Regions from separate parts of the Homo sapiens genome. Here region 1 is linked to region 2. Evidence: fine-mapped expression QTL. Tissue or cell type: whole blood. Region 2 holds a variant in brackets; the other region holds the start of a gene. All regions are shown on one strand. Distances are from middle to middle.

Region 1 (5,148 bases), 820 kb before region 2:
CGTCTCAAAAAAAAAAAAAAGAAAGAAAGAAAGAAAAAGCTCATCAACAAGGCCATCGAGTCCCTGCACGGGCAGCCCCTGCCACTCTCCCCTGCACCCACACACCATCTGCGTGGCTTTCTTCCCTTGGAGGGAGGTATCCCAAGCATGTTCTTACTCCTGCCCAGACACTCTCCCCAGATCCTGGCACAGCTGCCTCCTCCTTAGGATTCAGGTCTCACTGTGGATGTCCCTGTGAGAGCCACTCCCAGGTGTTGTCCATCGCATTACCCTATCCTGTCATGCCCCCCAGCACTTAGAAGCATCTGAGATTATCTTCTATTGTTTCTCCAATTTAGTGTCAGCTCCATGAGGGCAAGGATTTGTGTCTGTTCTGTTTATTGTTAAATCCCCATTAAAACTATTCCTCAGGGCTGGGCGCGGTGGCTCACGCCCGTAATCCCTGCACTTTGGGAGGTCAAGGCAGGTGGATCACGAGGTCAGCAGATCGAGACCATCCTGGCTAACATGGTGAAACCCGGTCTCTACTAAAAATACAAAAAATTAGCCAGGCGTGGTGGCAGGCGCCTGTAGTCCCAGCTACTTGGGAAGCTGAGGCAGGAGAATGGCATGAACCTGGGAGGCAGAGCTTGCAGTGAGCCGAGATCGCGCCACTGCACTCCAGCCTGGGTGACAGAGCGAGACTCCGTCTCAAAAACAAAAACAAACAACAAAAAAAAAACTGTCCCTCAGTATTCTCAGGGGATTGGCTCCATGACCTCCCTCCCATAGACACCAAAATCCAAGGATCCTCAAGTCCTTGATGTAAAATAAATTGGTTCAGTATTTGCATTTAACCTATACACATCCTCCTGTATACTTTAAATCATCTCTTGATTACTTATAATATCTAATATAATGTAACCGCTATGAAAATACACTATTGGCCGGCATGATGGCTCACACTTGTAATCCCAGCACTTTGGGAGGCTGAGGTGGGTGGATCACTTGAGCCCAGGAGTTCAAGACCAGCCTGGGCAACATGGCAAAACCCCATCTCTACAAAAATTAGCCAGGCATGGTGGTGCACGCCTGTGGTCCCTCCCAGCTACTTGGGAGAATGAGATGGGAGGCTCACTTGAGCCCAGGAGGTAAAGGTTGTGAATGAGCTGAGATAGCACCTCTGTACTCCAGCCTGGGTGACAGAGTGAGACCCTGTCTCAAAGAAAAAAAATTAAATATATCTATTGTTTAGGAAATAATGATAAGAAAAAAAGTCTGTACATGTTCAGCACAGATGCAATTTTGGTTTTGAATATTTTTGATGCAAAGTTGGTTAAACCCACAGATGCTGTGGACTAGACTAGGAAGTGCTAGGCATACACAGTATTTGTTGACTAGTGGCTGCACAGATTTATATACAGACATACCCGCCCCCACAACAATACTCAAATACATCACATTAATAGACAAATATACAGATGTGGGCAAAAATACCTGCCCGCACATTCACAGAACACACTAAACAGTCACAAAGACACCCAGGAGTCCCTTTTCCATCCCCATAGGAGTCAGTCCTAGTCCTCCCCCATCTAGATCTGCCCTCTACTTGAACCCAGTCTCGGGACTGGGGGAGTAGGGGTCTGCAGCCCGGACAGGGAGAGGGTCGCTGGCCCACAGGCCTCAGGCAGCGCCTTCAGCTATGTCTGCAATTTCCTCTCCCCCTTTCCTCCTCCTCTCTAAGGCTCCCGCCAAGGCGGCCTCCCCCTCATTCTAGCTCCAGCAAGGGAGGGGAGGTCCATGATGGGGGGGCCCCGTGGAGACAGGGCAGAAGGAAGCCCCCCGCCACACACACTGATCACACACCACATTGCATGCACAAGCCCAGGTGGGAAATGCGTGTGTGAGCACAGGCAGGTTTAGCCTTGGGGTGGGGGACGGGATGGGGTGGGATCTGCCACAAGCCGCCACAAGCTGCTTGGTGCACAAGAGCGCAGGAGCTCGCAGGCACAGAGGCCCCACGCTGGGGTCTGCGAGACTGCTGGCCGGGCCCTGGCTCAAAGCTGGAGTCCAACAATCATTAACCCTGCGTGACTAGACCAGAGCTCGGCCAGGGGACACATTCAAGCCTGGGCCCTGGAAGGAGGGGTGGACAGTCCCCTCCCTTCCAGTCCAGCATGGGTCTGGGGAAGAGAAGCAGCTTTGCCTGGAAGGGGCCTCCTAGGAGGGGGAGCGGTGGTTTCTAGCTCAGGCTTTAGGATCAGAGAGCAGCAGATTCAAATCCTGACGGTTTTGGTAAAGTCAATTCAATCTCTCCAAGACTCCGTTTATTTGATCTGCGAAGTGGGGATAATGGTATCACGTCGCAGGGTTGTCAGGCGGAGTAAGTGAAAGAACCTGTCCAAGGTTTAGCCCTTGGCCCGCACGCAGGCAGAGCTCCAGCCTCTCTGTTGTTGCTGTTAGTGGCCTGGGGGCGGGTCCCTGCCGCGGCCTCCCCGGCGGTTTCCTGTGGGGGACGGACGGCCCGCGGGCCGGGCTCTCCCTCCTCCCGGCTGCCCGCTCCTCTCCCCTTCCTCTCCCAGCCCTTTTCCTCCCCGCCTCCCCGCCCGCCCCGCCCCGCCCCGTCCCTCCTCTTTCCTCGGAGGAAACTTTCCGCCGGCTGGTCCCTCGGTCCGTGTCCCGCCCGTGCTGCCGCGGCCTGGGAGCCCAGCGGGGCCGGAGGGGCGGCGGGACCCGAGCGGGCGGGGGCGGCCGGACCCAGTGTATGCGGCCGCGGGACGCGCTGGGGCCGGGCAGCCGGGAAGCGGGGCGCTGACGGTGAGTGGGCCTGGCCCCGGGCCGGTGGGTCCCCGCGGGGCGGCCGGGCGAGGAGAGAGGCAGCTTCCCTTCCCGGAGCCCGCCTGGGGCGTGGAGGCTCAGCGTCCCTATCCTCCATCCCGCCCCGGGACGGCGGAACCGGGCCTCAGCTGGGGACCTCACCAGGGGGCGGGGCCTCCCGCGGTCCCCGGCGCTGCTCCCAGGACTGGAGGGGCGTCCGCGCCCGGGAGAGGGGTTCCCCCCGACAGGGCCCCGGGCCGCCACGAAGTTAGGGAAGCGCTCTCTCCAGGGTGGAACCTGGGCCCGCGGCTCCCGGGAGAGGAGCTGCCCGCGGAAGGGGTCGGGGTGGGCTCCAGGCTGGGAGAAGGATCTGACTTTGCTGACCTCGCAGGCTGGTAGGGGAGCTGCCCCCCAGAGCAGCATGGATGCCCCGCGAAGGGACATGGAGTTGCTCAGCAACAGCCTGGCTGCCTACGCGCACATCCGCGGTGAGGGCGGGCGCCGGAAGACTGGGGGCCTGAACCCTTCCCTGACCACCATCCCCTTCCCTCCCCAGCGCCTTGTCCGTCCCCTCCGCCCCGCTCCCCGCCCTCTTGCCCGCTGGCGGTTCCCTAATGCCCTTCGAGTAGGGGTTACAGGCCTCGCCCCCACACCTAGAACCTGGGGTCTTTCGGAAGTGGGACAACCCCCACCCGTCCGGGCCTCTCCGTGACCCCCGCCCTGTGCCCCGCAGCCAACCCCGAGAGCTTCGGCCTCTACTTCGTGCTGGGCGTCTGCTTCGGCCTGCTGCTCACCCTCTGCCTGCTCGTCATCAGCATCTCGTGGGCGCCCCGCCCGCGGCCCCGGGGCCCGGCTCAGCGCCGGGACCCCCGCAGCAGCACCCTGGAGCCCGAGGACGACGACGAGGACGAGGAGGACACGGTGACTCGGCTGGGCCCCGACGACACGCTGCCGGGCCCCGAGCTGTCCGCAGAGCCGGACGGGCCCCTCAACGTCAACGTCTTCACGTCGGCGGAGGAGCTGGAGCGGGCGCAGCGGCTGGAGGAGCGCGAACGGATCCTGCGGGAGATCTGGCGCACCGGGCAGCCGGACCTGCTGGGCACAGGCACGCTGGGGCCCAGCCCCACGGCCACGGGCACCCTGGGCCGCATGCACTATTACTGATGGGCCCCGGCTCCCGCTGCAAGGCGCTCGGGGTACCGGACCTGCACATGAGCTCAGAGCTACCCCACACCTTCGGACTGCCTCGGCCCCCACAGCTCCCAGGTGCTACTGGGCGTGGACCGCCACCCCCTGAGAGGCTCCCTTCCCCAGTCCTGCCAGAAGACCCCGGGGGCGGGGAGGGGGCAGCATGCAGGGTCCCCACTCCCTCTCTGGGGTCGATGAAGAGGTGAAGTGACCAAATGAAAGAAAGCTGCATTCTCAGTGACTCAGTCTCTCCCTCTGTTACTCCTGCCCCCAGCGACCCCCAGGCTCCTGCCACGCAGGGGCCCCAGGACTGAGGCCCAGCTTGACTCCCTTACCCTAGCTGCACCACCCCCACCCACCAACCCGACGATACAGCACACCTGCCCGCATTCACTTCACAGCCAGCAGAAAAGCAGAAGCCCACAGGCCTGCACCCAGCCTCACACACAGAGCAAGCGCGCGCGCATTCCTTATTCAAAACGCATTCCTTACCGGCAAACGCCTGGACACACGTCGCCCTGTCCCCACAGTGCCCTGGGTTCATACACTGCAATGACACACACACCAGGCCTCAGGACCCTGACCTCGAGGCTAAGGTGCTGCTAGCCCCGGTGTAAGCATGCGTGCTTGGGCTGGACGGTGGACTTCACGTCTGCGCCGAGGTGCGTTCAAGCGAGAGGGCAGGAGTCCCTCTGAGCGGACAGGGAGGCCAGCTGGGAGGGGTCCGAGCTGGCGAGAAGGCCCGCCCGGCTCCTCCCCGGCGCACAGCTGGATTCCGGAATCTAGGCCGGGCGTCAAGAGCCCGACCCCGCCTGGGCCCCTCCTGCCCGCCATTTCTCCAGTGCGCGGCTGGAGTCCGAAGGAGACACCCTCCCCCGCCCCTCACCATCCGGTGGATAAAAATAGCCGCGCGCAGGCCTTGGGAACGGTAATGGGAGCCACATGTTGGCCAGATGTGCCTGGGAGGGACCGTCAGGAATGCGGAGGCCCAGGCCCTGCCCCCGCGCAGGCCCCGCCCCCAGCGACCAGACCGGCGTGGCGCCGTGCTAGGCAGAGTTTACTTTCTCGCGTTTCCCAAAGTCGTGTGCAAGGACGTGGGTGGCCCCAGCCAGGTCAGGCCGCGGTCCCTTCCCAGGCCCACCCTCAGTAGGTCTGCGTCTGCGT
Region 2 (5,148 bases):
CCATTGTTTTGGTAAATGCAGAAAGCTGCTCATTATCTAGTCTAAGCTGGTTCTTGGCTACAGGTAAGTACAGTTGTATGGCTGTTAGTATTCACCAACCATTCTGCAGTATTTTCTGCCAAATTGCAAAACAGTTGATTGATGTGGTTACAGTCAAGTTCTCCTCCATCTCTCGCCTGTAAACACATTCTTTATGAGGTAGTTTCTATTCCAGTCAGAATTAACCATGCTTGGTACTACAGATTAAGATCTGACCTGCTGGGCTGTGGAGCAGGATGTGGCCATTAGCCAAGAGGTCTCTGGAGTGAATTCTCACCAAGCTGTATATGCCAAGGGAGATACCACCAGTAGAGTTTATTCTGCTTATTATGTTTCTTCATTGTTGATCTCCTTGGGGAAATGATTAAAAGGAATGACTCACTCTCTGCTCAGTCTTCCTTGATTGCTGTGACTTATTTTTGTATTTGTTTTGTCCTAGTTGTCTCTATCAAGTTGAAGCCAGAGTGGGCTATGACATGCCAAGCGCTCTGTGTACTAATTGTTGCACTGTATCATTTTGTTTAATTTTCATAGCAATATTTCCAAGTAGGCATTATTAGCCCTGTTTACCTGGTGAGAAAACTGAGGCCCAGAGAGGTTAAACAGTTTGCCAGTGATCATGCAGCATAGCTAGAATTGGAACCCAGATTTAATATTAAGAAAAAAACTTTTTAGTGCAGTATTAGAGAACAATCCTAGATTTAATATGCCCATAAACATTTATGGCTACCTACTGTCAATGTCAGGCACTTTTCTAAGCCTTAGAGATACAAAGGTGAATAAGAATGGTTCATTCCCTCAGGGAGTTTATAATCTAGTGGAGACTGATACATGAAGATAGGTATTTACAGTGGTGTATAATTATTGCATTAACATACTTATGTACACAATGCAGTAAGAACACAAGAAGTGATTCACTTCAGCAGGCAAGTGGTGTGTATGTGCAGGTAAGACTTCTCCGAGATGTTTAACATTTCTTGAAGGATGTGTAGGATTGTACTGGGGTGGGGTTAATGGTGGTAAAAAAACATTCTGGACAGAGCCACAGTGTATGTAAAGGCTCGGTCATAGTCATTGTGTATTTACTTGCGAGGTACTATACTAAGCTGGATACTGGGAATATTACAATAAATAAGATGAATATCATTTCTGCCTTAACAAGGCTTATACTCTGGCAAGGAATATTACATTTCTAATAATTAAATTATTATAATAATTATAAGCTTGATGTGGGTAATGAGAGGGTAAATACAGAGTGCCGTGAAAGCATCCAACAGGCACCTAATACAAACTAAGGTGTCAGGTTAGGCCACTTTAAAGAAAGAAAGTTTAAGCTGATATTTGAAGTAGGAATTCGGAAAAGAAACAGGGAAAAAGAGTATTTCAGGCAGAGGAAATAACAATTTCAAAGTGTGTTAGGTGCCCTAGAATATGGCGAGCTCAAGAAATTGGGAGAGACTGGTGTTGCTGGGCAAACGGAGAAAGAGAGCTGGTGGTGAAAGAGAAGTCTTGAGAGGTATGCAGAACCTTGAGGCCTTATTAAAATACTGGTTTTTATCTGAAGATCAGTGGGAAACCATTAGGGAGTTTTAAGTAGGGAATGACATAATCAGATAGTGGCTATGTGGTGAGTAGACTGGAAAGGGCGAGAATATACAGTTGACCCTTGAACAGTGTAGGGGTTAGGAATGTCAACCCTTTGTGCAGTTGGAAATTTGCATAAACTTCAGAATCCCCCAGAATGTAGCTACTAAAAGCCTGCTGTTGACTGGAAGCCTTACCAATAAGATAAACAGTCGATTAACACATATTATGTATGTCATATGCATTATATACTGTATTCTTAAACTAGATAAAATGTTAAGAAAATTGGCTGGGTGTGATGGCT[T/C]ATGCCTGTAATCCCAGCACTTTGGGAGGCCAAGGCGGGCGGATCACAAGGTCAGGAGATCGAGACCATTCTGGATAACACGGTGAAACCTTGTCTCTACTAAAAATACAAAAAGTTAGCCGGGCGTGGTGGCAGGCGCCTGTAGTCCCAGCTACTCGGGAGGCTGAGGGAGGAGAATGTCGTGAACCTGGGAGGTGGAGCTTGCAGTGAGCGAAGATTGCGCCACTGCACTCCAGCCTGGGCAACAGAGTAAGACTCTGTCTCAAAAAAAAAAAGGGAAGAAAATCATAAGGGGCTGGGCACGGCAGCTTATGCCTGTAATGTCAGCACTGGGGTAGGCTGAGGCAGGTGTATCAATTGAGGTCAGGAGTTCAAGACCAGCCTGGCCAACATGGTGAAACCCCGCCTCTACTAAAAATACAAAAATTAGCGAGGTGAGGTGGTGCACACCTGTAATCCCAGCTACTTGGGAGGCTGAGGCATGAGAATCGCTTGAACCCAGGAGGTGGAAGTTGCAGTGAGCCGAGATTGCACCACTGCACTCCAGCCTGGGCGACACAGCAAGACTCTGTCTCAAAAAAAAAAAAAAAAGAAAATCACAAGGGAAAATATACTTAGTATTCATTAAGTGGAAGTGGATCATCTTATAGGCATCCTTATTGTCTTCACGTTGAGTAGGCTGAGGAAGAGGAGTAGTTGGTCTTGCTGTCTCAGGCGGCAGAGGCACGAGAAAATTCACATATAAATGAACCTGCGCAGTTCAAGCCTGTGTTGTTTAAGGGCCAACTGTATATGGCCTGGTAAAATAGGAGGCTTTTCAGGCAAGAGAACCATTGTACTAAAAAAGGAGATTAAAGACAGGAAAAGGGATAAATAATGAATAATCCCTTAGAGCTGTGGTTCTCAAACTTTAGCATGCATCAGACTCACTTGAAGGCCTTGTTAAAAATAAATTGGTCTTTGTTTCTTGCTCTGAAGAGATGGAAATAAAAAAGATTGCCGGGCCCCAACTCCATAGTTTCTGACTCGGTAGGTCTGGAGTATGTTCTGAGAATTTGCATTTCCAGAAAGTTCCTGGAGTGTGCCAATGCTGCTGCCCAGGGACCAGAACCACTGCCTTATAGGGCAGGAAGGTTAGAATACTGAGCACAGAGTACAGTATTAGTCTTAAGCAGGATACTTCCTTCATTGTGACAGAGAGAAAGGATTGGGTAGGACACAGCTAGGGTGGGTTTATATACTGGGTAGAAGGAAATTGTTGTAGTTCTCATCTCTTTCTTGTTTTTTCTTAAGTGTGATAGATCATTTATGGATAGTAGAAACAGAGGTAGAGGTAGATGGGATTGGGGGGAGTGGGTAATAGACAGGAAAATCAGAGGTTTAGAGAGTGGGGTAAAGGTCTAAAATAGCCATCGTGAAGGATAGAAGATGGCAAACTAGGTAAGAAAATAGAAATATTGCTGGGTAGCCTTGAAGATGGAGATCATGCATTTATAACAGTGGTACTGATCTTTAAGTTGTGTGATTCTCCTCAGTAGCTCTCAGCAACTCTGTCAAGAAAAGCCTGATAATTTGATTCATCCAAGATAGGAACTTTGCTAGGTAGTTTGTACAGAAGGAAAATGAGGTATGGAAATCGAGGTTGTTGTAAAAAGAGTGATGAGAGATAGTATGAGAAAGTATAAAAAGAGGCAAAGATAGCAAGGCGCTACAGAAGTAGACAAGTTTGGCATTTAGTGGTTACCATGATGGGAAGCAGATGTCAGAGGAATGGGTAATTGTGAGTGCTGGAAGGATAGGAGGCGGTGGTCAGAGTATGTAATATTTGAATTTAAGATTTTGGAGGTGGTAAAGTTCTGATGGCAGAATCTAGGGTGAGCTGTGGAAGAGGGTTGCTGGGGTAGAGTGGAGAAGAAGTTTATTGGAGGCAAGGAGCTCAAAGAACCCAGCAAGCTCAAAGAACGTGTTAAATGAGTTACCCATGTGGACACTGAGGTAGTCTTTAATGATGGTGATGGTGATGATGATGATGATGATGATGATGATGATGATGATGACAGCAGCAATAACTGATGTTTACTGAGCATTTACTATATGCCAGGTACCATTCAGAACCCTTTACGTGTATTAACTCTTAATCTATACAGCAAATCTTGTGAATTACTATTACTGTTCCTGTTTTTTTTTTCTTTTTTTTTTTTTCTTGAGACAGAGTCTCACTGTGTCACCAGGCTGGAGTGCAGTGGTGCGATCTTGGCTCACTGCAACCTCTGCCTCTGGGTTCAAGTGATTTTACTACCTCAGCCTCCAGAGTAGCTGGTACCACAGGGGTGTGGCACACCCAGCGACTTTTTTTGTATTTTTAGTAGAGATGGCATTTCACCATGTTGGCCAGGGTGGTCTCGATCTCCTGACCTCGTGATCCGCCTGCCTCTGCCTCCCAAAGTGCTGGGACTACAGGCATGAGTCACTGTGCCTGCCCGTTCCTGTTTTATAAATGAGGAAACTCAGGCAACACAGCTAGGTATGTGGTACAACCAAGACTTGAACCTAAGCAGGCTGATTCTGTACGGACTCAGTCCTCTTTTTTTTTTTTTTTTGAGATGGAATTTTGCTCTTATTGCCCAGGCTAGAGTGCAATGGTGCGATCTTGGCTCACTGCAACCTCCACCTCCCGGGTTCAAGCAATTCGTCTGCCTCAGCCTCCCGAGTAGCTGGGACTACAGGCATGAGCCATCACGCCCAGCTAATTTTTTGTATTTTTAGTAGAGACAGGGTTTCTCCATGTTGGTCAGGCTGGTTTCAAACTCCTGACCTCAGGTGATCTGCCTGCCTCGGCCTCCCAAAGTGCTGGTATTACAGGCGTGAGCCACCACGCCTGGCCTGTCCTCTTACTGGCCTGTCCTTTCTTACTGTTCAGGTAGGACTTGGGATGAGGAGGACTTTTGAAAGCCAGATGTCAAAGTCACCAGTAAAATAGGAAGAGTGACGAGTAAATTGGGAGATGATAGCTGCAATGAGAGTTGAAGTGGCAGCAAGATGGCAAAGGAGAAGAGGTTTTCACAGGGAGGTAGAAGAATAATGGTTTGCAGAGGACATTGGGAAGCAGCAGCAAAGAAAATACCTCCAGCATACTATAGGATAATTATGGCCCGTGAAATTAGAAATGGATAAGTTAGAAAAATGGTAGATTTAGATCTGACAGTCTCCTGGAGGATGGT

Evidence for each region. PIP is the estimated chance that this variant, and not a neighbour inherited with it, causes the effect.
Region 1: EVA1B starts here. The variant in region 2 is fine-mapped to the expression of EVA1B in whole blood (INTERVAL, PIP 0.96).

What each region holds. Positions count from the first base shown.
Region 1 is chr1:36,321,107-36,326,254 of GRCh38, reverse strand. EVA1B (eva-1 homolog B) reads left to right here and starts at 2,610. Exons shown (of 3, transcript NM_001304762.2): 1 at 2,610-2,796; 2 at 3,188-3,284; 3 at 3,530-4,225. The coding sequence starts at 3,218. The coding sequence ends at 3,960. SH3D21 (SH3 domain containing 21) reads right to left here. Exons shown (of 16, transcript NM_001162530.2): 16 at 4,908-5,148. The coding sequence ends at 5,128. RefSeq lists silencers at 2,343-2,572, 2,663-3,022, 3,083-3,132, 3,223-3,412 and enhancers at 2,457-3,341, 4,228-5,112.
Region 2 is chr1:35,501,258-35,506,405 of GRCh38, reverse strand. The region is part of intron 3 of KIAA0319L (KIAA0319 like); the gene reads left to right. Among named protein-coding and RNA genes, the nearest start is that of KIAA0319L, 54 kb to the left of the region's middle. The variant T/C (reference allele first, on the strand shown) is at 1,928.